4 linked regions of the Homo sapiens genome follow. The protein of the gene in region 1 purifies or fractionates together with the protein of each later gene. This does not show direct contact. Each region holds a gene or a part of one and is shown on either strand. Other genes may lie near its edges. The genes, in order: CBLN4, NKIRAS1, DHFR2 and NRXN3.

Evidence for each region.
Region 2: the proteins of CBLN4 (region 1) and NKIRAS1 purify together in Homo sapiens (affinity purification with mass spectrometry; 2 studies listed by BioGRID and IntAct, with this or other methods). This does not show direct contact.
Region 3: the proteins of CBLN4 (region 1) and DHFR2 purify together in Homo sapiens (affinity purification with mass spectrometry; 2 studies listed by BioGRID and IntAct, with this or other methods). This does not show direct contact.
Region 4: the proteins of CBLN4 (region 1) and NRXN3 purify together in Homo sapiens (affinity purification with mass spectrometry; 2 studies listed by BioGRID and IntAct, with this or other methods). This does not show direct contact.

The regions. Positions count from the first base shown.
Region 1 is NC_000020.11:56,002,421-56,009,705, forward strand, and holds the start of CBLN4 (cerebellin-4 precursor), read right to left. Parts: upstream 3,100-7,285; 5' UTR 1,752-3,099; coding exon 1,461-1,751; intron 1-1,460. UniProt on the Homo sapiens protein: Acts as a synaptic organizer in specific subsets of neurons in the brain. Essential for the formation and maintenance of inhibitory GABAergic synapses.
Region 2 is NC_000003.12:23,899,832-23,907,088, forward strand, and holds part of NKIRAS1 (NF-kappa-B inhibitor-interacting Ras-like protein 1), read right to left. Parts: intron 1,647-7,257; exon of another isoform or gene 1,530-1,646; intron 1,243-1,529; exon of another isoform or gene 1,219-1,242; coding exon 977-1,218; intron 1-976. UniProt on the Homo sapiens protein: Atypical Ras-like protein that acts as a potent regulator of NF-kappa-B activity by preventing the degradation of NF-kappa-B inhibitor beta (NFKBIB) by most signals, explaining why NFKBIB is more resistant to degradation.
Region 3 is NC_000003.12:94,059,753-94,067,482, forward strand, and holds the start of DHFR2 (dihydrofolate reductase 2, mitochondrial), read right to left. Parts: upstream 3,165-7,730; 5' UTR 2,994-3,164; intron 1,855-2,993; 5' UTR 1,760-1,854; coding exon 1,196-1,759; 3' UTR 1-1,195. Other genes in the region: NSUN3 (tRNA (cytosine(34)-C(5))-methyltransferase, mitochondrial), read left to right, coding at 3,375-3,386, 4,685-4,794. UniProt on the Homo sapiens protein: Key enzyme in folate metabolism. Contributes to the de novo mitochondrial thymidylate biosynthesis pathway. Required to prevent uracil accumulation in mtDNA. Binds its own mRNA and that of DHFR.
Region 4 is NC_000014.9:78,964,154-78,971,410, reverse strand, and holds part of NRXN3 (neurexin 3), read right to left. Parts: intron 5,387-7,257; coding exon 5,005-5,386; intron 4,204-5,004; coding exon 4,013-4,203; intron 3,239-4,012; coding exon 3,065-3,238; intron 1-3,064. UniProt on the Homo sapiens protein: Neuronal cell surface protein that may be involved in cell recognition and cell adhesion. May mediate intracellular signaling. Functions as part of a trans-synaptic complex by binding to cerebellins and postsynaptic GRID1.

The sequences.
Region 1 (7,285 bases):
GATGTTGACTCTACACTGTAATTGGAGCATCCAGGTACATCGAGATTTATAACCAAATGTGTGTTCTTGTCTCTAAGATGCAAGGCTCACTGAAAAGAAGAACAAACCCTTTTCCTCTTCTAATTGATGGAAAGGTCATTGAAAGGAACACCCTGTATAGAGGATAGTGCAATGCCCACAGTATTCCAACATTTAATTAAAGCATTGAAATACAAACTAGGGGTGGTGCTAGACTTTATTTCCATCAAGATGGAAAATACTGCACCAAAACCCCAAATGGAGCTACTTAATTCTTTAAAAATTATGTCTATCAAATACTAAGCCCCTAGAGAGGCATTCTCTGTCTTTGGCCAGCTGGAGAGTGCATTAGTTAGGAAAAATTAAGCAAGGAATACAGATGTCACCTCGTGCTTTCCCTGGCACATCCTGCAACACCACTTAACCTGTGCCCCCTGCACATTGCAGCTTTGCATACAACTGTGAACTGTGAATTTGGAATTTAAAAAGACTCTGGATACTGTTGGGGCTGAAATTAAAAACTCTGAGGACAGTTTTCTCCCTTAAGACCCCTTGCTAAAGGTAAGCTGATATCCTGGGGTTTCTCATCAAGCCAAACACGGAGCACCAGGTCGCTAAACAGCAGCTACAGCTTCCGTCAGCTCTTCCCCTACTCTCATCAACCTCAAAGTCTGTCTTTCCCCAGCTATTTGCAATTCTCTGAAAGGACATGAGCCCGGGAAGGGAGAACTGGCTCCCAAGCGCTTTCCTACAGGAGCTCAGCGCAGTTGCCAAATTCCTTTTCCTCCCCTCCTCCGCAACTTTTCTCTAAGTACCGGAGAAGGGCTTGCTGCCTACTCCGAGGCAGCGGCAGTGCCAGCGGTGCCTGGCACACGAACAGTGGAACCTGCAGGCGAGATCTGACCCCCGGCTCTGCCCCCGCCCTCCGCGGCCACCTGCCCGATCTCTGAAGAGTGTGGAAGCCCGGGGCTCTCTTGGGAGAGAAGCTTCTCTACCTGGGAGAAACAAATCAAACATTTATCCTGTTCCGCAAAGGTACCCAGGGAGCAGCCTCAGCGGCACCCGCAGAGGAGTCTGAGCAAGGGCACCAAGATCTGGCCAAGAGATAACGACGTCCAGGGACCAGGTGCCCTTCGGCTCCCGCCGACCTGTTGCTCGAAACTTGCCCTGAGCTCTCGCTGCCGGGCTCTGGGCTCCCAAGCCTCTCCCCCGCCGCCGCAGCAGCCTCTTTTAGGGGCCCGGAAGAAATGGGAGCCGGGGCTGGTGAGAGGGGTAGGAAGAGGGACGGTAGAAGTTTCAGACCCAGGCATATTTGGGAAGGCGAGTGCTTTACATGATTCCCCATTTCCCAATCGGACCAGCTTAGCCTGGGCAGGCAGCCTCGTGCTGAGGTGCCTGGAGACCGCCCACCCCCTAGGTGCTCGCTTCCCCCCGGGTCTGACCTGATCGAAGTAAATGATGCGCGTCTTGTTGCTCATCTCGGATGGCTCGTGGTTGGTGCTCCGCACCGCCGAGAAGGCGACCTTGGAGTTGGCCGCCCGGACCGATATCCCCAGCGGGGAGGAAGAGGAGCCCTTGGAGTCCGTGGCCGGGTTCGAGTCGCACACCACCAGACACTTGCCCTCCAGCACGATGGGCTCCGTGTCGTTCTGTGCCCAGACGGGCAGCCCCGGCAGCGTGAGGACCAGCAGCACGGCCGGCACCGCGGACAGCGCCCGGCGCCCGGAGCCCATGGTGAGCCGTGTGGGCAGCCGCAGCCGGCTGGCGCTGGTGCTCGCCCGCGTCGCCTCCTACCCCGGGATCCCGGTGCTCGGGAAGATGCTAGCGGCTAGGTCGACAGCGCTGCAGGAGCGACGGCGGCGGCGGCGCGCACACTTCCACCAATTCTGTGGCTTGAAGTCAAAGTCTCCCCTCGAGCTCTCTCGCTGGCTCTGTTACCTTTGTCCTTTAAGGAGCTCATGCAGCACCCTTTACCCTACTCTCCTCCGCCCAAGAATCAGCCCTGCCTGGGGCCCCTGCACCCACTCTGGTTCCTAGACATCTGAAAGTCATCAAACCCTCACATTCACACCTCAAGGCAAAAAATAATAATAATAATAAATTCTCACCCCAAACTCAAGCACCACCAGCTAAACCACGGAGCAGGAACAAAAAGAGGGGACTCAAAGAGAAGCCACAAGGGTGGCGGGTGCCCAGCGGCGCGGGTGCCAGTCCTGTCTGGCTTGCGGCAGGGACGAGTTACAGAGGCAGAAGGTCCTTCCCAGGCTGAGAAGAACGCGAGGCTGTGTTCATGGCCAGGACGCCAGCGACTCCCACTTTCGCCTGGTCAAAAAAATCCCCCAAACCTGGTGTCACCCAGAGGTAGGGAGGGAGGCAGCGGCTAGCCAGGTCCCTCGCACCGAAAGCGCGGATTCGCAGGATCAGGTCCAGGGCGCCGGGCGCAGCGTTCAGGGCGGCTGGTCCGGCGGGGTCCTCTCCTGCCTGGCCGCCCGCCCCCAGTCCCTGCGCACAACTTTCTCGTCCCTCGTGCAGCCCGGAGAGCGCGAAGCGGGCACACGCGCTCTATTTATAGGAGCGCAGCGTCCGGCTGGGTTGGCTTATCGCGCAACCCGCGGGCTCCGAGAAAAGGGGGAGAAGGCGTCTGGTGACCCCATCTGAGCAGCTCTCTCCTGACGTTTAACGCACCCCAAAGCAAGCGGGGCGCACAGCACTGGTGATTGGCAAGGTTCGAGGCCCCTCAGCCCCTGAAAGCCCGTGGCGTAAAGGATGCGTGCCCAGAGAGGAGCCCACGGCCCTGCGCTGGCCCCAGCTCCGCGCCCACTCTCTCCTGCTCGATCTGAGTCCGCAGAGGAGGCGGCTGGTCCCCTCACCCCTCCCAGCGCGGAACTCTGCCGCCGAGTGCCCTCCAAGCGGAGCGCGGCGCTGCCAGGCCGGGTCGCGAAAAAGGATAAGCCGCCGCGGACCCGCGCTGCGCGCTGCCCCGAACCTGGGGACCGGCGGGCGTCCCGACCGCGCCTGGCCGGGAGCCCGCCCCACACAGCCCTGGGGCCTGGCGAGCTCAGGGAAGCCTTGGGGCGGACCAGAGCCCGTGGGGGCGGCTGGGAGGAGGTGCCTGATTCCTTCCTTCCGCTCCGGGAAGATGAGCCTCAGAAGCCGCAGGGGCGCGCCTTCCCCCCACACCGCGAATCCTCCCCAGGCATGGCCAAAAAAAAGAGTGGGAGAGGGAGTTAACTCAGCAAGAATAAGTCCTCCGAAACCGTGCCAACAACAATAAAAAAATAAAAATAAAAATAAAAATAAAAGACAATCCCACTCCTAGGAATACAGCATTTTTCTCCCCTTTGGATGCGCTTTCCGCCCCCGTGCCACTCCACTGCTATCTTGGCCTCTGATTTGCAAGAGTTCCCTTCCTCTTCTGCAGCTACCACGGGGAAGGGAGGTTTGTCTCTGTCTGGACCCGGCTGCGTGAACTTGGCCGAGTCACTAACCCTCTCTGAGAGGGGGGCGCGGCGTTAACTAAGGTCCTCCCCACCCCCATCCCGCCAGCTTTCCAATTCTGTGATGCTGTGGGGTCATGGCGCCCCTTCCCCAATTTCTTCTACACTTCCAGCTGCCAGAGGGCAGACACGTATGGTATCTTTAACCAAAACAGTATCCCCTCCAGGCATTCGGAGCTCCTAAAATGGCATTGGCTAGTTATGAATGGAAGGGATGTTTATTGAGGGAGGTCCTTGGGATGGACGGCTCCCATTCCTTCCTGAGTGAAGGACGCCCTCATGAGCGTGGCATTCGAGCCCTCCACAAAACAAGGTGAACCTCGTCTCCAGCCTTTTTCCCTTCCTTCAGAAGGGCCGGGCATTGAGCTATAAGCACCAGCTCCAACTGTTAAAATTGAAGACACTACGAGGAATCCCCTAACCCTCACCTCCCTATAATCTCTCAACTAAAGTGTTAATACTTGGTGCCACAGGGGCCTTCAGATTCTGCTCCAGTGGGGCCAGTATCAGGTGTTTTGACTTTATGATTTTATTTTACTTGTGGTGGGGGGTGGTCTCGCTATATTGCCCAGGCTAGATGCAAAACTACTGGGCTCAAGCGATTCTACTACCTCAGCCTCCCCAGTAGCTGAGACTACAGGCCGGTGTCAGTTCCGGCTGGCAGGTGCTAGTACCATGCTATTTGTTAAAATGTTGAAAGTTACCTATCTAAGCTACAACCAAACAAGGTGAACTAGTGCCTTCTGAAGATGGCCACCATTTACCCAGCTTTGATGCCCCACCCTAAGCCCAGCACAATCTTCACCTGATCCCTCTCTGCACTTTGTAACTCTCTTCCAGATTTTAGGGATGTCTGCCTGGTTAACAGCAGCAATTTCTTCTCATTTGATGCAGTCTTTTGAGGGTGGGTGCTGAGTTGAATTTAGTTCCTTTTATTTCCTGTAGGGGTAAGCACCCTGCCTTCCTTGTCTGGGACAGCTGTTCAATAACTAGAACTTTGGTTGTTCAATTTCAGGCTGGGAGAAGTTTGACAAAAAAAAAAAAAAAAAAAAAAAAAAAACTGTGTTGAATTGTTAAATAGAAAATAAGCTATCTTCCTCACCAATTCCAATATATTCTCTCTACCTCCTTTTCTTCTCCAGGCACTTCCTGCACGCAAGAACTGAGATTTGAAGAAACCTATTCTTTCTCTCACCAAAAATATTCATTTTTAGTCCCAAAATCTGCATAGTGACCATAGTAAAGACTCAATAATTGAGAAATGACTGAATGCTTCCTAATAGAAGGTAATTATCACTCATATTATAGTATAAACTGCTTTAAATGAGTCTCTCTCAGTAAAATTTAAATTCAAAGCCTCCTTAATAATTGGGGATAAGGGTCTCGGTTCCTTACTAAAGGATGTTCTGCTCTTCAAAGTGTTCTGAAGATAAGGAACACAGCATTTTCTGTGGACCCCCGCTAAGAGAAGTTATCTTATATTGTGAATCAGAGGGTCCTGACTCTTTTTCCCACAACAGTTGATTAAACACGGATAGCCCCTGGGTTCTAGGACCATCAATGCATTTGATACCAGAAGTCCAAGATTTGTATGGTCCAACTTGGCCAGATGACTTGGGGCTGCCAGATTTTCTCTCTGCAATCTTAATGAGACATCAAAATAGCTTCCAGTAAGCACTACATGTGGCAGAGACAAGGTTTGTAGTCTCCCAAACTGACGTGGCCATGTAGGAGTCATCTGCAAGCTGAAGCAGAAGAGGTATTGGAATAAACCAGAGGACTGGCCACACTTGTAGAAAGAAGCCAATTCTGGAGCATGAGCACTTCTAAGAAGTACAGGGAGTGAATAGTCAATCGCCAGTTCTGAACTCTTGCTTACAAGAGTTCCAGAAACATTTTCTCCTAACCTTGGGTTTCTTGGTATCCTCCTATGTCTTTGAAATAAAAACCCAATTCCCTTGAGCTAGTTTTAGTAACATACCGCTCCCTGTCATCCAGAATCCTCATTAGAACATTGTCCCAGAAACCATACCACAAAAGGCTATGGATCTCTTGCCAAAAGACTAACAAATCCAATCTCCTGCCTGTAGGAAATGCTTTTCCAACATTTTGGGAAAGGAGGCATCACCTGTTCCTCACCCCCTACTTCAGCCCCAGCATCCCCAGGAGAAAAGAAACAAGATCAAGTTTAAGTTTCTCTCCAACCACAGCATAGATCTGTTTTTCTTTTTCTTTTTCTTGTATTTTTCCAGTTGAAAATATGCTATTAGAAGACCTAGCAGTGACCCAAATATTTTCCCTTTCTGAGATTCCCATATTGTATTTGATGCCTAGGATTTTTTTTTTCTCCTAGACCTTTAGAGATGACGCAGAAATGCATTTCAGTTCTCTGCAGCTGGGCTTAACTTTAAAGTAAATTAGAATCTAAACTATCCTTGCATAGGAAAGCAATACTTCTGAGGTCAGTAAATTCAATGACTGCTTGTCCAGCCATCCTTTAGAGAAACCAAGTTTCAAGCAAGCCCAAGACAGTAAGGATCTATGAGCTATTTTCTGACTGTGAAGAAAATGTTTCTGAGAAGGCAAAGACAGACACACACAAGGTATTCAGCTCTAAGGGCCTCACTGTGGTTGAATGAAAGCAGACTCCATGCATCATGCAGCAGAGACAGCCGCAGGTCAGTCGTGCAGAAGATGGAAAATCGAGAGAGAGAGAGCAGTGAGGCTTGCATCATACCCAGACAAAGTTCCACTGAGTTGCTTAATTACCCTTTGCTCTTTATAATGATAGTTATCAGCCCAAGCTAATGATCTTTTTTGAGGGAGAGTAAGTAGCTTAAGAAGAAAAAGTCTTGGTGGGACTGTAAACTAGTTCAACTATTGTGGAAGTCAGTGTGGCAATTCCTCAGGGATCTAGAACTAGAAATACCATTTGACCCAGCCATCCCATTACTGGGTATATACCCAAAGGATTATAAATCATGCTGCTATAAAGACACATGCACATGTATGTTTATTGCAGCACTATTCACAATAGCAAAGACTTGGAACCAACCCAAATGTCCATCAATGATAGACTGGATTAAGAAAATGTGGCACATATACACCATGGAATACTATGCAGCCATAAAAAAGGATGAGTTCATGTCCTTTGTAGGGACATGGATGAAGCTGGAAACCATCATTCTCAGCAAACTCTCTCAAGGACAGAAAACCAAACACCGCATGTTCTCACTCATAGCTGGGAATTGAACAATGAGAACACATGGACACAGGAAGGGGAACATCACACACCAGGGACTGTTGTGGGGTGGGGGGAGGTTGGAGGGATAGCATTAGGAGATATACCTGTTAAATGACGAGTTAATGGGTGCAGCACACCAACATGGCACATGTATACATATGTAACAAACCTGCGCGTTGTGCACATGTACCCTAAAACTTAAAGTATATTAGAAAAAAAGAAGAAGAAGAAAAAGTCTCCATGAACAACCAATATGTGAGAACTTACATAGTCTGGAAAGTTCCAGAGTCATGTTGAGTAAATCTTCATAGCTCCTTCTGGAGACAGCCAAATGACAGACTTGTTTCATATGAGGATGGTATTGTGGGAAAAAAATAGATGGATGCTGTAAAAAATACTTCTCAATTGGTTTTAGAATTTGAAAATTGTTTGGGACAGTTTTTCTAGATAGTTTATTCCACTCACCCCATTGGCAAATAAGGTACGTGTCTAAGACATCAGTGAGAAGTGAGACGTCTTGGTCATG
Region 2 (7,257 bases), on another chromosome or scaffold:
CTGAAGACAAGAATCCTATGTACCCAAGGAGATAATAAAAAGCCCAAGGAGGGCAGGCATGGTGGCTCATGCCTGTAATCTCAGCACTTTGGGAGGCCGAAGCAGGCGGATCACAAAGTCAGGAGATCGAGACCATCCTGGCTAACACGGTGAAACCCTGTTTCTACTAAAAATACAAAAAATTACTGGGCCTGGTAGCACACGCCTGTAGTCCCAGCTACTCAGGAGGCTGAGGCAGCAGAATCCCTTGAACCTGGGAGTTGGAGGTTGCAGTGAGCCAAGATCGTGCCACTGCACTCCAGCCTGGGTGAAAGAGAGAGACTCAGTCTCAAAAAAAACAAAAACAAAAACCCAAGGAAACAGCAATACCAAAGAACATAAAATGAATTATGTAGTACTTGAGATAAGAAGTCATTAAAATTCAACTTGTAGATGGTAACAAGCAAAAGGCAGAAAGTCAAATTCTGGTCCTAACTAAATTCAGTCAGACCTGTATTTCTTGGGTTAAGAAAAAAATTCTAGGCCAGGCAGAGCGGCTCACACGTGTAATCCCAGCACTTTGGGAGGCCAAGGCCGGCAAAGCACTTGAGGTTAGGAGTTCAAGACCAGCCTGGCCAACGCGGTAATACCCTGTCTCCACTAAAAATATAAAAATTAGCCGGGCATAGTGGCACACTCCTGTATTCCCAGCTACTTGGGAGGCTGAGGCAGGAGAATCGCTTGTACCCGGGAGGCGGAGGTTGCAGTGAGCCAAGATCGCATCATTGCACTTTCAACTCTTGCCTGGGAGACAGAGCGAGACTCCGTCTCAAAAAAAAAAAAAAAAGAAAAAGAAAAAGAAAAGAAAAAAATTGTAAAGGTTTTACAGATACTAAGAATATACTGTAATGATCTGAAAATAAACTACCCAAAAGTCTGTGCTATAATTTAAATGGTATTATAATTCACATTTGGCATTTTTAACATATCCACTTGCCTCTTTTTTGTCTTTGAACTTATCGATTTCTTTCTTCAGAAGCTCCACTCTTTGAAAGGATTCAAGGTTATTCACACTGTACACAAGAACGAAGCCATCAGCAAATGAAAAATAATGCTTTGGCAGCTCCACGCCTTCCTGTAGACCTCTGGTGTCATAAAGATGTAACTGTTCTTTTACTCCTCGGTCTGTTTCTACTGAAGCCATGTATACATCTTCCATTGTTTCGCAATCTTCCATTCCTGGGATTAAGAAAACAAATTACTCTTTTTGGCTAAGTCAGTGTCAACTGCTCCGTATTTTCTTGTCCTTTAGAAATTGGCTTTCTAGGTTTCTTATTTACCACATATAATAATCACATTTCTATTTTACTTTTTTTTTTTTTTTTTGAAACAGGGTCCTGTTCTGTTGCCCAGGCTGAAGTGCAGTGGCTCGATCTCAGCTCACTACAACCTCCGCCACCTGGGCTCAAGGGATCCTCCCACCTCAGCCTCCCAAGTAGTCCCTCCCAGCTGGGACTACAGGTGCCATCATGCCCAGTGAATTCTTGTACTTTTTGTAGAGACAGGGTTTCACCACGTGGCCCAGGCTGGTCTCGAACTCCTGGGCTCAAGCAATCTACCCACTTTGGCCTCTAAAGTGCTGGGATTACGGGTGTGAGGCACTGCACCTGGCGTAAACAAAATTCTTTTAAAAAATATTTCTTCTGCATAAAAATAAAAATCCCCTTCTTGTTTATGATCTTTTAAAAATGCATTTTACCACTTTGTTTCATTTGTGCAAGTTTTATCTCTTCAACTAGTCTCTAAGTTTATTAAGTGAAAGGAACCATTCTGTGTACACAGCAAATATTCAATAAGCCCTTACTGATAAAGGAATTAAAGGGAGAAGATTAACATTCTTAATTTTAATAAGTAGTGGAGAGACATGTGATAAGACAGGTAAGGTATAGTCCCAGTAACCACCTCCATATTTAAATATGAGGCCAGGCACGGTGGCTCACGCCTATAATCCCAGCACTTTGGGAGGCCTAGGTGGGCAGATCACCTGAGGTCAGGAGTTCAAGAACAGCCTGGCCAACATGGCCAAACCCCATCTCAACTAAAAATACAAAAATTCGCTGGGTGTGGTGGCGGGCACCTGTTATCCCAGCTACTCAGGAGGTTGAGGCAGGGAGAATTGCTTGAACCTGGGAGGCAGAGGTTGCAGTGAGCCGAGATCATGCCACTGCACTCCAGCTTGGATGACAGAGCAAGACTCCGTCTCAAAAAATAATAATAAAAAAATAAAAATAAATGAATGTGAGATACATCCAGAGGTAAAATCACATGGATAACATCCTATACCCCCCCCAATCATACTATGTTATAGTTTTTTTTAAACTAGTTACAGTTTTCCTAAACAACCTAAATACTGTAGAATGATTTGTTCCAGATGCCTTACATGAAATGTCCGTTAAGTATTAGATTACATAAAATCTCCACAAGTATTAGATTAAAAGGAATAATCACATGGTAATACATAGATTGGATCATTGAGAAACCAAAAATTTACTTTCATCAACATAACTCATAAGGAATGTATTCAGTGTTTAGAAAGGTAAAATTATTCATAAATCTGATTATGTATATACCTGTCTGTGTCATCCTGTCATAAATTAAGCCCTAAGGAAATTAAAGGTTATCTATTAAGACACAAACGTATTGGGCTTTGATTACAAATTAATTTAAAAGCAAAAACTACCAAGCATTTTGTCATGTGATTTTTTTATCCACCAAAAGCCAGTCCGGTTAGCCCACCTCCACCTGCCTCTCCAAAAGGGGGTCTAAAGTTTAGACCTTTTGATATTTTGGTACTCTAAAGATCAAATGAAGTCAAGAGTCTTCCACTAGTTCTCTAGATTTCCTCTCCCACTCCACGCTGCTGGGCAACTACCCATCTCGCACACCAGGGGAAGGCTTAAGGGTGCAATCTCTGGGGAGTATAAAATAGAGGCTGTCTAGACTGTGGGATAAAGGGAATGAGTTCCACCATGAAAACAGGGCAATTAAGTGACATGCCTGCGCACACACACATACTGAATGTTGAAGTCCTCCGGCTTTCCCTTTCTGCTCCCAAAACACTGGCAGCCAGCTCTTTATCCCCATCCAGGGGAATCTGGAGAATCTGGCCAACGGAAAAGGAAAAAATCCTAAATATACTGACATCTAGGTTTCCCCAATAAATGCCCCTGCCAGATCACTTTAGTGAAGCTCTAAGTCATGAACCCTATCCATATGCTTAGAGCTTCCAATTGGCTTTTTAAGTTGTATTTATTTATTTTTGAGACAGGGTCTCACTTTGTCATCTGGGCTGAAGTTCAGTGGGACAATCTCAGCTCATTGCAGCCTCAACCTCCTGGGCTCAAGCGATCCTCCCACCTCAGCCCTTCAAGTAGCTGGGACTACAGGTACATACCACCAAGCCCCACTAATTCTTGTATTTTTTTGTATAGATGGGGTTTCACCATGTTGCCCAGGCTGGTCTTGAACTCCTGAGCTCAAGCAATCTGCCTGCTTCTGCCTCCCAAAGTGCTAGGATTACAGGCATGAGCCACTGCACTGGGCCTAGGGGTCCATTTTTAATTATGAACAGATAACCAAGGTTTAGCAGACACCTGAAGAAAATAGAGACCAACAAGAAGAGACCGCTACAGAGAAACCAACTATACAAAGAAAAGAAAACAAAAACAAACAAACAAAAAACTACCTAATCTATCAAAAAAATAAGATAGTACATCCATGAAATAAGAACAGGATACTAACAAAAACTCAATAGAAGGGCTGGAAAATAAAGATAAGAATATCTACCAAAAAGTGGTACAAAAATATTGAGAGATGATAAACAGGAAAGGGGCAATAAGAAAATTCAAGGACTAGTCCAGAAGGTCCAGCATCCAAAAAGAGAGTTCCAGAAAACAAGGACAGAGAACACAGAGGAAAGAAAGCAATAACAAAATAATTCAAAACTGAAGAACATGCATTTCCATATAGAAGGGGCCCTCTAAGTGTCCAATACAGTAAATGAAAACAGACTGGCCAGGCTCGGGGGCTCACACCTGTAATACCAGCACTTTGGGAGGCCAAGGTGGGCGGATCACCTGAGGTCAGGAGTTCAAGACCAGCCTAGCCAACATGGTGAAACCCCATCTCTACTAAAAATACAAAAATTAGCTGGGCACGGTGGTGCGCACCTGTAATTGCAGCTACTTGGGAGGCTGAAGTGGGAGAATTGCCTGAACTCAGGATGCGGAGGCTGCAGTGAGCTGAGATCGTGCCACTGCACTCCAACCCGAGTAAAAAAAGAAAAAGAAAGAAAAGAAAAGATCAATTCTATGACGCATCACTGAAATTTCAGAACACTGGTGTCTTAGTCCATTTGTGCTTCTATAACAAAATACCACAGACTGGGTAATTTATAAATAGAAAATTTCTTTCTCACAGTTCTGGAGGCTGGGAAGTCCAAGATCAAGGTGCCAGTAGGTCTGGTGTGTTGTTATGGCACAGTCCCTACTGCAAGATGGAGCCTTGTTGCTGCATCCTTGGGAGGGGTCAAATGCTGTGTCCTCACATGGTGGGAGAGACAGAAGGGCAAGAGAGCACTCCCTTCAACCTCAAGCCCTTTTATAAGGATGCTAATCTTTCATGAGGGATTAGTCCTCATGAAGGTGAAGGGTGGAGCCCTCATGATTTAATCACCTCTTATAGGCCACAGTGCTTAATACTGTTACATTGGAGATTAAGTTTCAACATGAATTTTGGAGGAGACACTATCCTTCAAACCACAGCAACTAAGAACAAAGAAGAGAGCCTAAAAAAGTTTCCACAGACAAAGCATCAAGAATCATAATGGTTCCCAGATTCTCAAAAGTAGCACTAGAAGCAAGAAGACAATAGAAGCTGATAAAGTTAAAGAGACACACCTTCTATGAATCAGCAATTTCTAGATATGTATACCAGAATTTATCACATAATAGCCAGGATACATGTACAATAATGTTCCAGAGTAGCATTATTTCCAATAGCTCCAAACTGGAAAATAACCCAAATGTTCATGAAGACCTAACAGACAGAGGTAGTTTCATGCAATAGAATGTTACATCAATGAAAAGTAAACAACCACAGCTACGGCAAAATGGATGAATCTTTTATTTTTTTTTCTAAATAGAGATGGGGTCTCCTGATGTTGCCCAGGCTGATCTCAAACTCTGGGGCTCAAGTGATCTTCCCACCTCGGCCTCCCAAAGTGCTGGGATTCCAGTGGTGAGCCACCATGCCTGGCCTGATGTGTCTTACAAATATAATGTTGAGTAAAAGAAGCCAGACATGGATTAATTTAATTCATAGAAAATCCATAGGGCAAAAAATAAACTAGACCATTTAGTGACACACATATGTGGCAATTAAAAATAAAAAGAATGATTAACCAAAAGTCAAGGGAAGGAATGAGTTGCAACTGGACAGAGGAACACAGGGAGCCACTGGCCTGTCCTCAATGTTGTACTTTTTGATCCATGTGGAGATTATGTGAAGGTTTGTCTTATAATTATTAAACCATATATGCAATGCTTTCAAAATTCCGAAAGTATATTATTTTTGACCTAGAGTTCCATACCCATCAAAATTACAATTCAAATGTTAGTGTAAAATAAAGACAGTTTCAAACATGCAAAGCCTCAGAAAATGTATCACGTATATTTTCTCAGAAAACTATTTGAGGAGACCCTCCATAAAAACTAATATGTAATCATAGAAACAGGAAGAAACAGAACCTAACACAGATATGAAGTAAAGGAAATCACAAGCACAATTAGTAAATATCTCAATTCGGAAGCCCCAGGGTCACGACTACGTCCCAGGTAGAGGGCATGTTGAAGGCCATCATCACTGGATGTTCTGTTCTACTGTACAACCTTTTCAACCCCAGAAAAGTACTGGAAAATGTGCTCCAAAAAAAAAAAAAAAAGGTATAAGCCAAAAGAAGAAAAGAAGACAAGAGATCTAGGAAACAGGAAATCAAAACCAGGGAGAGGCCGGGTGCAGTGGCTCATGCCTATAATCCCAACATTTTGGGAGGCTGAGGCAGGCAGATTGCTTGAGGCCAGGAGTTCAAGACCAGCTGGAGCAACATGGTGAAACCCTGTCTCTACTAAAAACACAAAAATTAGCCAGGCATGATGGCGCATGACCGTAATCCCAGCTACTTGGGAGGCTGAGGCAGGAGAATCACTTGAACCTAGGAGGTGGAGGTTGCAGTGAGCCGAGATCGTGCCACTGCACTCCACCCTGGGTGACAGAGCGAGACTCCGTCTCAAAAAAAAAAAAAAAAAAAACCAAAGGGAGAAACAAAGGGGAAGTTCCATGATGATGGTGGCACAGTAGATAAGAGGACACAGAGCTCCTGAAAGGACACAGCCAAGAAAAAAAATAGATTATCTGATGGAGCTGACCTCATGCAGAACTGAGAAACATCTGGACTATGTGGAAAGAACTAGCAAAAGGTATAAACAAAACTAAAGAAATGACAAATACATGTTGGCTTCCATGAAAACAAAACAAAAAAAAGAATCACAGTATACTATACTGCTCTGCTGAGAATACCACTGACCCTTAAACAACACAGATTTGAACTTCACATGTCTTACATGTAGATTTTCTTTCTCCTCTGCCACCTGACACAGCAAGACCAATCCCTCCTCCTTCTCCTCAGTCTACTCCACATAAAAACAATGAGGATGAAGACCTTTACGATGAACCACTTCCAGTTAATAAATAGTAAATATATTTTTTCTTCCTTATGATTTTTTTTTTTTTTTTGAGATGGAGAATCACTTGAACCCAGGAGGTGGAGGCTGCAGTGAGGTGAGATGGCATCACTATACTCCAGTCTGGGAGACACAGATTTTATTTTATAGGCATTATCATCAAAGAGAGTGTCTTATATCCTTTGCAGTGGCTATTTTTCACTTACATTCTTCTTTTCAAATTTAAATAATGGTAACCTCTTATACATTTTAAAATAACCTTTATTTTTTAAAGCAGGTTTTTGTTTTGTTTTGTTTTGTTTTGATACAGTCTCGCTCTGTTGCCCAGGCTGGAGTGCAGTGGCGTGATCTTGGCTCACGATAAACTCTGCCTCCCGGGTTCAAGAGATTCTCATGACTCAGCCTCCTAGATAGCTGAGATTACAGGCACGTGCCACCATGCCCAGCTAATTTTTATATTTTTAGTAGAGATGGGGTT
Region 3 (7,730 bases), on another chromosome or scaffold:
TATACTTTTTACTAAAAGAATGAAGATCTGCCAAGTGCAGTGGCTGATGCCTGTAATCCCAGCACCCCTGAAGGCCGAGGCAGGAGGATCACCTGAGGTCAGGAGTTCGAGACTAGCCTGACCAACATGGAATGTCCCCACCAAAAATACAAAATTAGCCTGGCGTGGTGGCACGCGCCTGTAGTCCCAGCCACCCAGGAGCCTGAGGCAGGAGAATTGCTTGAACCTGGGAAGGCTGAAGTTGCCGTGAGCCAAGGTTGTTCCATTGCACTCCGCCTGGGCAACAAGAGTGAAATTCTGTCTTAAAAAGAAAAAAAAAAAAAAGTATGAAGAGTTTACATACTTAAACATGGAATTGCTTTAAGTGTTTGGCATTCACCGTTCCCGTACATTACAGCAGCTTCTTTCAGCAAACACCTGGAACTTGCTATTGAGTAGGTGGAGTACGTTCTGCCCACACACAGGACAGGGAGCTGACAACCAAGGAGTGGGGGTTAAATACTCTAGCTTTCTCCCCTCCGTTTCCCTGTATCTCAGCAGTATGGAGCTCGTTACCATTGAGAACCTCCTCACTGATTTTGAACTGGTTTTTACCTTCTCAGTTCCATTTCTCCATACTTCGATTGATGACTTCTGGTATGACCTAGCAAATAAACTGCTTTCACTTAAATTTCAGTCTTGGAATCTGCTTTGGGTTCCCCAATCTAAGACAGAAATATATTCATTTTCCCATCACTGGACTTCCAGGTTGTTTTCAGTTTTTCACTGTTACAAAAAAGGCTGCAACATTTGTCTACAAACCTCTGGATATACATGTACGAAGCTTTTGGTATTTCCTACTAGTGAAACTGCTCAGCTGAAGGGTATGTGCATCTTCATCTTTAATAAATACTACCAACATTAGAAAAGCCTGACAATGTCAAGGAGTGGCAAGAGTGCCACATGTGATGGGTGTGGAATGGCAGCTCACTGTAGCAGGTGCTGGGGACTCAGTCGGGGTCTTGGAGAGACAGTTATAGCAAGAATGTTTCATAAATGGTATCTGATATAGCCAAGATTAGTGAGGAATAAAAACACGTTGCTTAGAAATAATTATCCATAGATCTGAAGTCAACAAAAGTCCCTTTTCTAATGTAAAAATGCATACTTTTCTCAGAGGGAGGGGGAACAACTTAAACCAGAAAACACCTTCATATTAATCATCCTTCTCACATACTTCAAATTTGTACTTGATGTGTTTCCCCTCCTGGACATCAGAGAGAACACCTGGGTATTCAGGCAGAAGTTTATATTTCTCCAAGTCAATTTCTGAAAAAAACGTGTCACTTTCAAAGTCCTGCATGATCCTTGTCACAAATAGTTTAAGATGGCCTAGGTGATTCATGGCTTCCTTATAAACAGAACTGCCACCAACTATCCAAATCATGTCTACTTTATTTGCTAATTCTGGTCGTTCAGTAAGTTTTAAGGCATCATCCAAACTTCTGGCAAGAAAATGAGCTCCTTGTGGAGGTTCCTTGAGTTCTCTGCTGAGAACTAAATTAATTCTATCCTTTAAAGGTCGATTCTTCTCAGGAATGGAGAACCAGGTCTTCCTACCCATAATCACCAGATTCTGTTTACCCTCTACTGAAGAAGTTGTGGTCATTCTCTGGAAATACCTGAATTCATTCCTGAGCGGCGGCCTGGGCAGGTCCCCGTTCTTGCCGATGCCCATGTTTTGGGACACAGCGACGATGCAGTTTAGCAAAAGAAACATGACAGCAGCGGTTAACACCTCCGAACTTGCTGGCTACGCCAGGAAGCCAGGCCAAGAATGCCGCGAAATTCCCTTCTTCAAATTTTTTTACGTGCCTACATTGCAAATACAATACCACTGTATTAATTAATTGCAACATTCTGGAATGAACATAGAAAAATAAATTATATAAAATATATTTATAAAGTATAAATTTATAAAATATTTATAAAATATAAATTTATAAAATTATAAAAAATACAGAGGCTGAAAGGTTAGACCGACTTTTCCACAAACATTAAACAGACGGCATCCAAGAGATGGCATCATTTCATTCCTGATTATCATAGTCTTTTGTACCAAATCTAAATTCTAATAAGATGCATTTTTTAGGTGACTTGGAAACTTGTTTAAATAAATAAATATATTAAGCTTCAAATCAGATTAGAAGGAAAGACATGTTTTTACATGAATATAAGACTTGTACCTATAGCATGTACGTATATTGATATGAGCATCAAGGAACAACTCAAAATGATGATTATTAACTATCAGGGACCATATCAAACCGGTTTTTTCTAATTGCTGATTGCTGCTACAAATGATAGTTACTGAAGCATGACACCAAAAGAGCAAATAAACTTCTATTCGTGTCAAAATAGGTGTAATAAACATCTTCCTTGGAGAACCATTAAACATTGCTCCCTTGTAAAGGTGAATTGGGGAGGCTAGAGTGGAGGGTCCTTTTGGTCTTCACGCATTTGGTATCAACGCGACAAAAATCACAATGATCACAATAGTGAAAATAATAGCAGCTAACATTTGGGCATTTACTGTTTCCTAATCACTGTTGTAACCGCTTTACATGCCTACTTCAGTTTAACACTCTCCATTAAAAGGAGAGATTATCCCCATGGGCCAGGTCTGGGGAAAAGCATGACTTAATTTCTTTTTCATTATATTCCACCCTTTTATCCTTGGGTACTGAATGTCTAGGTTAACAGGGGTCACTAGATTTGGTAGATTAAGTCAGTAACTAGCTTCGCTTTGAGAATATTTTAAATCAGTCATCATACAACATAACCCCAAAACTCATTCCTTTATTGAGCCCCATGCATATACACACTGTTCAGCACAATATGCGACTTTTTATTTATTTTTGAGACAAAGCCTCGCTCTGTCGCCCACGCTGCAGTGCAGTGGCGCGATCACGGGTCACTGCAACCTCAAACTTCTGCCCAAGCGATCCTCCCACCTCAGCATCCGCAGAAGCAGGGGCCGCACAGGCGCGCAGATGTGTGACTTTCTAAGGTCCGGCCGCCCAAAGCTACGCCGACCAATCCAAGTAGCGAAAGTCGCTTTGGCCCTGGCCCGTTACCTCCGCGTCCTGGGAAGTATCAGCCTTTACCAGCTACCGGAAGTAACTGCGCACGAAATCTCCCGCGGGAGCTAAGCCTCTTCGACAAGAATTCTATAGCGCGAGCAAATCAGTATCTCGCGAGAAATTGAAGAGGAAACGTGAGAATGAAAGTGGATGCCCGCGAATCCCGGAAGTCAGACTGTTTTTTTCAGTTCCCTGGAGGCTTTTTGATACTGATTCGCGTACACCTGTTGTTTGAAAGCTCTCAGCGGGACAATGCTGACCCAGGTGAGACCTGGGGCCCGGCTGGGTACCTCTATCTGAATGAGACGCTTCTGGACGCGGCCGAGGTGGCGAGGGAGGGTGCTGGGATGGGGGAACATCACCTTTGTTCGTCCCCTCGCGAGATCAGCGTTTCTTTGGCTTTACTGTCAAGCCCTGAAATAATGCTGAGTGCTGTAATGCTGAGTCCCTTCCGTCCAGCTCGCAGACTTCTAGTACCCACTCCCTCCAGCTCTTGGAGGGCTGAGATTTGTTTTCTGTGTCACAGCGGTATCCCGGGAGCTTAGAACAGTGTCTGTTACATAGTAGGCATTGAATACACGTTTCTTGGATGAATAAATGAAACAATTGCAAGGAAGTTCACGATGAAATTGGAGTGACTTTTCTCCCTAAATTAACTTTTCACTTTAAAATAACGTTGCAAAGATAGTACAGAGTTCTCAAATACCTTTCACCAATTTTTCTTGATGTCAGCATCCCCGGTGACTTTTTAGTTTTGTTTAGATACAAGTTCTTGCTCTGTCACCCAATCTGGAATGCAGCTGCTCCATCATAGCTCACTGTAACCTTGAACTCCTGGGTTCAAGCGATCCTCCAGCCTCAGCCTCCCTAGTAGCTAGGACTACAGGAGCAGGCCACTACGCCTGGCTAATTTTTTTTTTTTTTTTACTTTTTGTAGAGACACGTCCTTGATATGTTTTCCAGTCTGGTCTTGAACTGGGAAATGATCCTCTCGCCTCGTCCCTGCAAAGCATGAGCCAGCTGGAGTACAGTGGCGCGATCTCGGCTCACTGCAACCTCCACCTCCTGAGTTCAAGCGATTCTCCCACCTCAGCCCCCTGAGTAGGTGGGGTTACAGGCGCCCACCACTACTCTCGGCTAATTTTTGTATTTTTAGTAGAGACGGGTTTCCCGTGTTGGCCAACCTGGTCTTGAACTCCAGACCTCATGTGATCCTCCCGCCTCTGCCTCCCACAGTGCTGGGATTACAGGTGTGAGCCACCTGCCTAGCCCCTACAGTGACTTTTTAAAATTAATTTTGTTCCTTTTGACAGTTTCTTCAGCCCCAGTAGATTCTGTTTTAACCTTTGCTTCACATTTGGAAAATAATTATTTGGAAAAACCTTGCTTTTTCATAATTAGATAATGTACAGTTTTGGTACATGTAAGGTATTGCTTCCATTTCAAGAACTAGTAATTATCCAAAAAAAGTGTTCTTGTCTTAAAAAAAGACCTTGCTAATGTTGACGTTCAGTAAATTTGTAATATCACTGTGTGTCAGCAACTTTTTCTTATCGTCATAGCTGAAAGCAAAATCAGAGGGGAAGCTTGCAAAACAGATTTGCAAAGTTGTGTTGGATCATTTTGAAAAACAGTATTCCAAAGAACTCGGAGATGCCTGGAATACAGTAAGGTTAGTATAATTCATCTCGATGCTTTATGATGGAACAAAGTACAATATGTAGTCCTCCTTTTTGTGGGAGGGATGCTGTGAGGTTAAAAGGCAAAGGAATCTAAATCTGGTTGCCTTTTCCTACTGAAGCTATAGAAAGGAACAACTAAGAAGAAATAGAATGAATCATAGCATGTTGGAAAGGGGAAATAAAACTTTGTCGGGATGGTAAGCACAAATTGTTACGCCTTTGCTTTGAGCAATTACTTTGATCCTTGAAATAGGAATGCCCACTAGTTTGACAAAATTAATTATACTGTAAAAGAAAAAAACATAAAATTTGGAATATTTGACTGATTTCTGAAATTTAGAAGATAATACAACAAATCTTTAAAGCCAGCACTGCTTTATCTCAGCCAAAGGTACACTTTATTTGGTAATCATATTTCTTTCCTATGTCGATGGCTGGGTATATTTTGAACACGTGCATATACACACAAAATTATTTAAATATAAAAATAAGGAATGTTTAATGCATGGAAGTGGGAGAAATGTGATTTGTCTGTTTGGTAAGATGATGTTAATGTATGGATTACTGTATGGGTTCTTGACATTGAGTGCCTGATACACTATATAACCCTCTCTGGAATACAGAGCAAGACAGTCTGCATGTCCAGTTTACATGCCGTCTAGTTAGTGTTAATGGGAGAAGTGAGGAGATGGGTGTGGTTACAACTATATAAACTAATTTGTAAATACTGTGATCCAAGTATCTAACAAAGCCTGAGGGTGCCAGCAAAGGCCTGAAGGGAAGCTGGGTCTTGGTGACTTAGAGGAGTTACTTTGACAAAAAGAACTAGGCCTCCTAGGTTGAGGGAAGAAGGTGCACTGTTCATGAAGTTAGGGCAAAAGCCCACTACATGTTGCATGAGGAAAAAAAGTTGCATGGCTACAGATATTATCTGGAACTTGGTCCAGACTAATTTTTCAGATGGTTGGCTTGTCCATTTTTTTCTTGGATCAACTCTTAAGCATTTCTCCTTTACAAAGGGCAGTTCTGAGCATTTTCTAAAACAAATTAAGTTTTGGCTAATAAAGATCACAAAGTCTGAGGTGATTCTGAGATAATTTTAGGACAATTAAGCTGTTATAGAAATTGGTAAATGCTGTAATATGCAAACCGTTTATACTCGTGGGTTTTATTTCAAAAGTAGATTTTCAAATGGGTATTTTCTGTCACAGAGATGAAGAACTGAATAATAAAGTATGTAATAAATTTATGAGGTTTTCAGTATACAAAGGTACTCAAATAGAGTATCCAAATAACCAAACACTTATTGCATGTTTACTATATGCCAGACAATACTGACTTACATGATCCTCAGAACAAACCCGTTAAGAGTTTAAGTAATTTGCCCAAGTTCACTCAGCTAATAAGTGGCAGAGCTGAGGCTTGTGCCTGGGTTGTCTGACTCAATAACTCCCACAGCTCATCCTTGTTCTGTACTGTCTCATATCTGGGATGTGATTTAAAAAAAAAAAAGATTTCAAGAGGCTTTTTTTTTTTCTGTAGACTTTGTAGCAGTCTGGCTACTCATATCCTATAATGACTTATTTTTCTACTTAGTGTACTCAGAAAGTCATATACTATTATTTGACCCTGAGCAAAATGAGCAATGAACCTCAAATCCATTTAATTAGCTGTGCCTTCTGCTTCATTTACCCTATTGTGGGGTTTTTGTGGTAATTTAAGTTTTGCATAAACACACACTAAATTTGCCATAGGCAAAATAAAGGTTTCTCAGCTTAGGAAGTAGTCTGAGCATGGAAGATGGTATGGGGAAATAAGAACAGAATGAAATATTTTGTGTTTTAACTGCTTGTTTGCAAGACATAATGTACTTGTAGAGTCTACTTCCAGGGAAAGTCAAGTGCTCTTTTTTTGGCCTATTTAGAAAGTAATTTATTCAATATTTTTAGTTTCCTGTAGTAGTGAGGAAGATTTAGTATTTAGTTTTGCTCTTTTTTAGTAACCTTTCTTGTCTAGTCATCCTCTGAGCAGCCCTTTAAAATTGGAGTTTACCCTGGTTCAATTCTTGCTCTATTTGTTGCCTCCATGTTCTCCTCAGGTAAGCCCATTCATGGCATGACTTTTATCAGTATGCTGTCATCTCAAGCTGTGAGGTTCTTCCTAAGATTTAGTCCCATACTTCTGTTTTTTAGCAACTTCAGTTACTTGGCAAACTCAAAAGTGTATTATTATTTTTCCCTTTCAAACTTATGTTGCCTTTGCTACCTGCATATTTTATCTCAATTAAGTGTATCACCATCAGTCTGGTTTCCTCCTTTCTTCTCTATACCTTCACTACCTTTGTAGTAAAAAATGAACCTTATATAAAAATAGGTCTGGCAACTGCCCTCAGCTCCTGGGAGGCGATCTCTAAGCCCTTGGAATGTGCTTCCTGATAAGTGTGTCTTTGTTTACCTGGGTGTTGAGGTCACACCTGATAATCTAACGATGTGATTTATGTTGAGGCCTGGGGACCACAGGTGTCAACTCAACATCCAGAAGGGCTTGTGACTAAAAGCTGTATGGACAGTCAATCATATATACGTGACCAAGCCCCAATAAAAAGTGGATACCAAGGCTTTGGTGAGTGTCCCTGGTTGGCAATACTCTTGTGCATACTGTCATACATTACTGCCAGCAAAAGTTGACCTCGTTGATGATTCCGTTGGAGAGGACAGCTGGAAGCTTCATGCTTTGAATTGTTGTGAATTCTGCACTATGAGTCTCTTCCTGTGATTGTTTTTAATCTGTATGCTTTCATTATAATAAACTGTGACTATAACTGTGATTATAACAGCTTTCAGTGAGTTCGGTTGTGTCCCAGTGAATAATCAAACCTGAGAGTCATCCTTGGAATCCCTGAACTTGTAATTGGTGTCAGAAGTGA
Region 4 (7,257 bases), on another chromosome or scaffold:
CTAGATTTGCTAGAATAAAACATATCTTGAAGAGATTCTGGTCTTAGTTCTTAGTTATAAAACCTCATCCCCTACTTGTTTACTGTTCTATGTAAAAGAAATGATAAATTAAGAAATTTGTTCTGTTTCCTGTGGTCCTCATACTACCTAATGCTCAAAGGCCTTCTTGGGGGTCTCATGCTCTACACAAGAGATTCAGAATAAAAATGATGCCTTTTTGCAGTGTCTCCAGTGTTTTGTGCTCTCCCTTTACCTCCCCACCATCTTACACAGAACCCTAAAATGCTCCTGGGATCTCTTGCAAGGGCTTATTCACAGTGGTACAAACTTCCAATGACAGTAATTTATGCCTTAACCCATTTTGGGCCATTTTTCCTGGCCACTTAGGCTAATTATCCAAGTCATTTGTGTACAATCAACAAGGACTTTCTTCCCTCAGCACTCACCCTCCACTTCATCCCACCCAGCGGGGTAGGCATAATGCTCAGTGGGTAACCGTTGTAATTATCTCCATGGCAATAGAGTGCAGTGCTATTAGGCTCATGGGACTCACCATAGATTCAGATGGTGGAGCCATCAAGCCACAATATCCGGCTTTGAACAATCAACCATACTCAGAGGAAGGTCGGAGCTCTCTGTAATGCATGTGATGAGTAATGCCAAACTGCACATAGAGCTGTAGATAGGGATAGGGACATTTTCCCCAACTCGTTATGTAATTTCTTTTTGCTGATGCTCTTACTGCTTCTCTTAAAACTCTCTTAAGTGAGGTCATTCTCCCTTTATATTATACATTTTAGTACCCTTTTATAAAGCTTAGACCTCCTTTTAATCCAATACTATAGCTTTATTTATTTACACCTTAATTTTTGTATTCTGTATACCTGTACTACCAATACAGTAGCCATTGACATGTGTATTGAGCACTTTAAATGCATGTAGCCCCTGGGTTGAGGTGTGCTGCAAGTATAAAATACAAACTCAAGTTTAGAGGCTTAATGTGAAAAAAAGTGCAAAATATTGATAATTTTATCTCTATTACATTCTGAAATAATATTTTGGGTATATTTAGTTAAATTGAATAAAATACAAAATTAAAATAAATTTGACCTGTTACTTTATACCTTTTTAAAATGTAGCTACTAGGAAATTTATAATTGCATGTGTTACATATATCTATTGGAAAACACTGACATAGAGTTAATGGATGATTCCTGTTAACTTTTAAATCTGAAGAACTGATGGCATAATAAAAATTCTGTAACATTTGACCAGTATCTTACGCTTTCTAATATGTGCTCTTATATTGTGATTTGACTTCATATGATTAATTATTCCAGGATAAATGGAATTACTGCCATTCTACAATCTTCTAAACACTATATACAATTTAATTCCAAATGCTACGTCTATTCCAGGATTGCCCTTTAATACACAAAAGAACTAAAAGCAAGCCAAGGAGACAAAAATCCCTGATTGAATGAAATTGTTCATTTCTAGGAGCAAAGTGGCTGCTTTAAGGGCTTAGTGATTCCCAACCTCCTGTCCCTTTATACACACACACACACACACACACACACACACACACACACACACTACATAGTACAAACACCATATTTGGCCAAGACAATTTAAGAAATATTTCTGGATAAAGGAAAAATGGAGTGGGTTATAGGAATGAACATTCCTATTACTAGTGCAAAATACAAAAATAACTCTTAGGCAAAGGGAAACAATTTCCATAACTCCAAGTCAGCCTGATAAGCTGACAGGAAGCTTTTATAAATGTGTGCTTTACGATGATGAGCTAACCCAGATGGAAGCTGTTTAAGAACAGAAGCGATACATGAAGTTGAACACAGAAGTGGAATGAACAGATTTGATGTGGTAAATTAACAACTGATACAAGGAAACACAATATATTGCGCAAACACAGGACCATAAGGCTCAACCAAAAGGCTCAAAAAGAAAAAAAGGAAATAATTACATAGATCCTTGGTCAGGCAACTTCTTTGCCTTTCAAGTTAGGTAACAGTCACGTTTTCAGCCAACCCAAGACTACTAGGGAAGGCTGAATGTGTTCACTTCTGCCATCTGCTGGTTAAAACTAGATTGTTTACACTGCAAAGAATTGTTGGATTCAGGAAGACCTGTAAAATTCATTTAGTATCTCAAGAGACAGTGGATCATCTACAGGAACAGGCTGAGCATGGTTTGTTGTGCTGCATGGGTAGACATGCAGTATTATTAGATGTTTGACATAAAATAATATTTGTAAACAATAAGCCTACCATTTATCGAGTACCTACTACATACCAGGCATTTTATGTGTATTTCTGATCTCCTTACATTCAAGGTAAGTTTTATTGCCCTGTTTTATAGGTAAGAAAGATATAGCTTACAGAAGTTACATCACCTTCCAAATGTCACATAGCTAACAAGAGCTACTACCTGGAGCTGAATCCAGGTATTTCTAATATCAAAGCCCATAATGTTCCAATATACCACACTAAAGAACTGCCTAGCAATGCCTGATAATTAGTAAGTACTTAGTAAATGTTAGTTCCCTTCCATCATCATGGCATTTGGACATCGTTTTCCTATTGCCTGCTAGATTTGCATTAAATAATGCAGTCACTATCAGCCAAAATAAGAAACATTTTATTAATTAGTGACATCTACATAAAATCTCTGGTTTTCCCCTCATCATGTATTAAAGTATAAATAAAAGTCTCCAGTGCTGTTTCAGCCATTCTGGAAGCCAAGGTACACATTGAAAGAAGCCTGATGTCAATGCCAGGGAAGTTTTTTATTTTATTTTATTTTTATTGGCAAGTATGTGATACTCAGAAAACATCTGCCAACATACATTCCTGGAGCCTGTGGCACATGTCTTGACATACTAAACCAGTGACAAGAGAACACTGATGGTGATGCAATGTCACGTGGCAAATGAGAATGAGACAGGACTGGTCAACTGAGGAAGGAGGCAGTGGCAGAGGCAGCAAAGAGGCTTGGTGCTTGCAACAAGGCTGTAGCTTAACAAGAAAAAAATAGGTTGTACCTTCACAGCCACGCTCGATCTGTCCGCTCCGATGAAGAGCATCATTGATGAGGTCTGGCAGGCGTCCATTCAAGTCCACTGATGCTAGACAGCCCTGAAAGCCATCTCGAGAGGCCACGAGCTTTGGGAGGTTGCTGTACATGCCTTGGGCCAGACCAGCCATATAGAGATCACCTGGAAAGGAAAGTAATTAGCAAAAGAGAATGAGTAAAGGATGTGGTGACCATGTCAACTAGTTTGATACACTTGAGATAATTCATCAGATAAGGAATAAGATAGCTGGGGGGGGGGGGGGGGGACAGCATAAATGAGATAAGCACCTGAGTTTCTACCCTGCAAAAAAAGGAAACCAATATTTATTATGTGTCATTCATTTTATATATACCATCTCAAAAATTTATTCATCATAGATGGAGTAAAGATTAACAATATTGTCAACAAAGCAAGCATTTATTGAGTGCTTTTTATGTGCTTGTTACCAATAATATGCTGAGGGATATACAGACATGCCATCAAAACTTCTCACGACCTATACAGAAACTAACAATTATTATCCTCATTTTGCAAAGAAAAGTAAATGTAAGCTGAACAAGGCTAAGACAGTTTACTGATGACACCAGACATTAAATGATTCAGCTGAAATTCCAAAGCCTATATTCCTTCCTCTGTATTACGGCCCTTCCCACACTTTGACACTCATCCTGTCATCTCTCAGCCCCCACAGCATGACATTCCCGAGGTTATCAGAGAAAATGAACCATTTCTTGATGAGTAGTCTAAGTAAAAACGGAAAAAATTGCATTACAGGATAATTCAACATTGTTAAAACAGGATATGGATGATGTATCAAAAATGCATGGCACTCTGAACCTGTGGTTTGCCTCTGGAAATAGTCTATCTATTGTAAGAAAAGCTCTATTAAAAACTAAATTTCTTTACAAGGTTTACCTTTCAAATCCAGATTTTTGGCACCATTGATAACCTGAGTGACCACTTTGGTGTCCACTTTCAGGCTATGAGTGTTACTATTGTCCCGAGTGATGACGACATTGTGCCACTGGTTGTCATTCAGGGGGCGGTCACTGTTGCCTTTGATCACATTGGGACCGTTTCCGAGGTCAAAAACGTAGTGTATATACCTAGGAAGAAAAAAAAAAAAAAACAATAATTGGAAAATCCCCGAAGTGGTTTAATGGCTATATGTGTGTAACTGACATAGTGGGCTTCAAATCCCCCATGCTAAACTGGCATAATGCAGGAATAATTTAAATCTTGATATGAGGTTACAAGAATAGTCAGATTTTATTCTATCATGCTTCACTATAATTCCATACTCATCGAGTCCACTTCATTAACACTACCTACTAATACTCTCCAGAGTCAAAGTAGCACAGGTTGTACACTACAAAACATAAGGGGGTGACTTTTAAATTCATCATCAACCATTAATCTGTTTTGGTTTTTGTTTTGGTTTTTTGTTTTGACTATTTTCTAATACATGGTAGTAAAATGTCTTGAGGAAAGGGCAGCTTCTAAAAACTTGCATATATGGGCTAATGGTAGGATTTAAAATATTTATGTTTCATCTTTTGGTATAAATTGGGTGGTTGTAGTTAGTAATACTCAAGAATTAGATGCAATACAAATCATAGCCCTCTTTTGCAAAAATAAGCTTTTCTTCAATAGTTTTAAAGGGCTACATTTCATAGGAAAAAGTCTGTTAGTGTTGAGTTAGTGGAAGACCTTTAAATTAAATCATGAGCCTCTCTCCTTTCCAGACCTAATAATTTTATGGATCCATTTAATCAAGGAAGATGCGAGAATGTGTCAGGAATGGAGGGTAGGGAGTAGAATAGACAAGTTATTTTTATGTCCATATTTTACGTAGAGCTTCAGTAGATTAAAGGTGTCCAACATAAGTCGTGATCCCTTCTACTTACCCCTTGACAAGCTCGACTGCAATGAAGTCATTGCCATCACCACTATTGAAGAGAATGAAGCCATCTGGTGAGGTGGTCTTGAACTGGAAGAAGAGGTGCATGGAGGTGTAAGCCTGAAGAGTGGCAAGGCTCAGGTAGCTGCTCTTGGTCTTAAAGGTGACAGGGTCAGCGATGATGTTCCTCAGTCCAAAACGAGCCTTCAGCTCACAATAATCAATGTCACCATTTTTGCACAAGTCAATGTAGAGAAGGCCATTAAACATGAGGCTCTGCAGATGGCCAATAAAGCTGGAGGGGACAACGGAGATGTAGCGTTTCTCAGTCATGATTCCCGTTTCAATGTTGTGGAACTCCAAACGGGTATGGTCTCCCACCATTGTACCTGTGAAAATTGTAAATGAGGTACAAACAGAAAAGTTACCATCATTTATCACAGCACCCTCAAGTATATTTTTTGGGTGTAACCTGTTTCCACACAGAATATTCAGCTTTCTTGGGTGAGTTCAAGAAAACCAAATATTCAATATGGTAGATACCTTACTTGGCCTCAATCAGGCATTGCCCAAATTACATGCTGTCACGCAGCTGCTCAGCACGGCTCATCATATAAGGGGAAATATGAGGTCATGAGTAACCCAGGCTAAAGGATAAAACTATTGATATTCTCCATTCAGGAGAATCACTGGACACTAATACACACTATAAGAAGAAAGGCCTTTGTTGCTCTGACCCTTGTAAAGACACAACACACAAGTCTTGGGCATCACTACCAAGTATTTTTTCTCGTAATAACTCTCCACTTAGTACTCGTGGGAAGGATTCTATTATAGACTTATCAGTTGAGTTTACCTGCCCAGCAACTGTTACTTTATCTTATAATAACACGTAATTTTTCTTTAGGAAGCTACCCACCCCTCTTGACCTTTCAACCACCTGGACTGGATAAAGTTGACCCTAATCAAGCTACTCAGCCTAGACCACTCAATGTACTTTACCCCCCTAACTGTCACAGACTTTGGACTACAGACTTAAAAAGCGGTCATTACACTTTAGGGTGTATCAGAATCACCTGGGGGGCTTAGGCCCTCAGAGTTTAGAATTCAAAAGTCTGGGGTGAGGCCTGAGAATCTGCATTTCTAACAAGTTTCACAGTGATGCTCTTGTGGCTGATTTAGGGACCACCCTTAGAACTGGCAACAACCCAAGCCATCCCGGCCACACTCAGTTCCAGAGCTCTTGCTGGTACACTTAGGAAAGAGGATTCTTTGCAAGCAAGGACTGCTGGAGGGGTAAGAAGAAAGCTTTGAGTCCCTAGAGGCTATAAGAAAATCAGAGGGATCAGAGGACTAGCAACCCAGAAGACAATTACCAAATGAAGAGAATCATCTGTGCTGTCCTTTGAGACTCTGGATCAAGCCAGGCACCTCCCGGCTTTTTCAAACTGTGTGGCAATAGACTCCCTTTCATGCTTAAAGCGTTTGAGTTGGGTTTCTGACATTCACAACGGAAATATCTTCAGCTGTTACAAATGAACTATTTAGAACTTGTATTACCTATTTTACCTAGAAGTGGTGAGTGACTAGGGCAGAGGGGATAAGGAGGGCTTGAAAAAAAAATACAAAGAGACTGGAAATTTTAATAACAAAATAAAGAAAAACATCATTAATGTGGCCAGAGTAGAAATTGGCTTCCTCAACATTTATATAGAAAAATCATGTTAAAACATAACAAACCATGTTCTACTGCCAAGCATTAGAGGGGGAATTCTTTCTTCCTGTCCTCTCTTGTTACCTTCTACATTGAAAAAACTCCATTAGCAAGACTGATAGCATCTCTTTATTTCCTCTTTAACAACTTTCCTGAAGAAGTGACATAATCAGAAATATTAAGGATGATCTGCAAAGAGAAGCTGTGTATGCTTAGCTCAGCCCCTAACACCTCCTGTTTCTCTTTGCTGGAGCAAGCTGCCTTCAGAAATGTCCATTCTACTGCATGCATCCATAGAATGGGTGTTACAGGAGCAAGCCTTGCTTCCACAAAGGATGTCTGCCCAGTTCTGAACTACTATTCAAGTGGGCAGTTCTGTCTAATTCTGAAGTTCAGTGGGTGTAAGCAATATTATTGTGTGTTATTACTAATTAAAATGATATTTGCCTTCCATCCTCATTGCAATATTTTCTCTATTGGCTCAGAATTACAGTGACAAAAAAAGGGAGGATTGTATTTTCTTAGGTCTCTTAAACTTCAGTATCT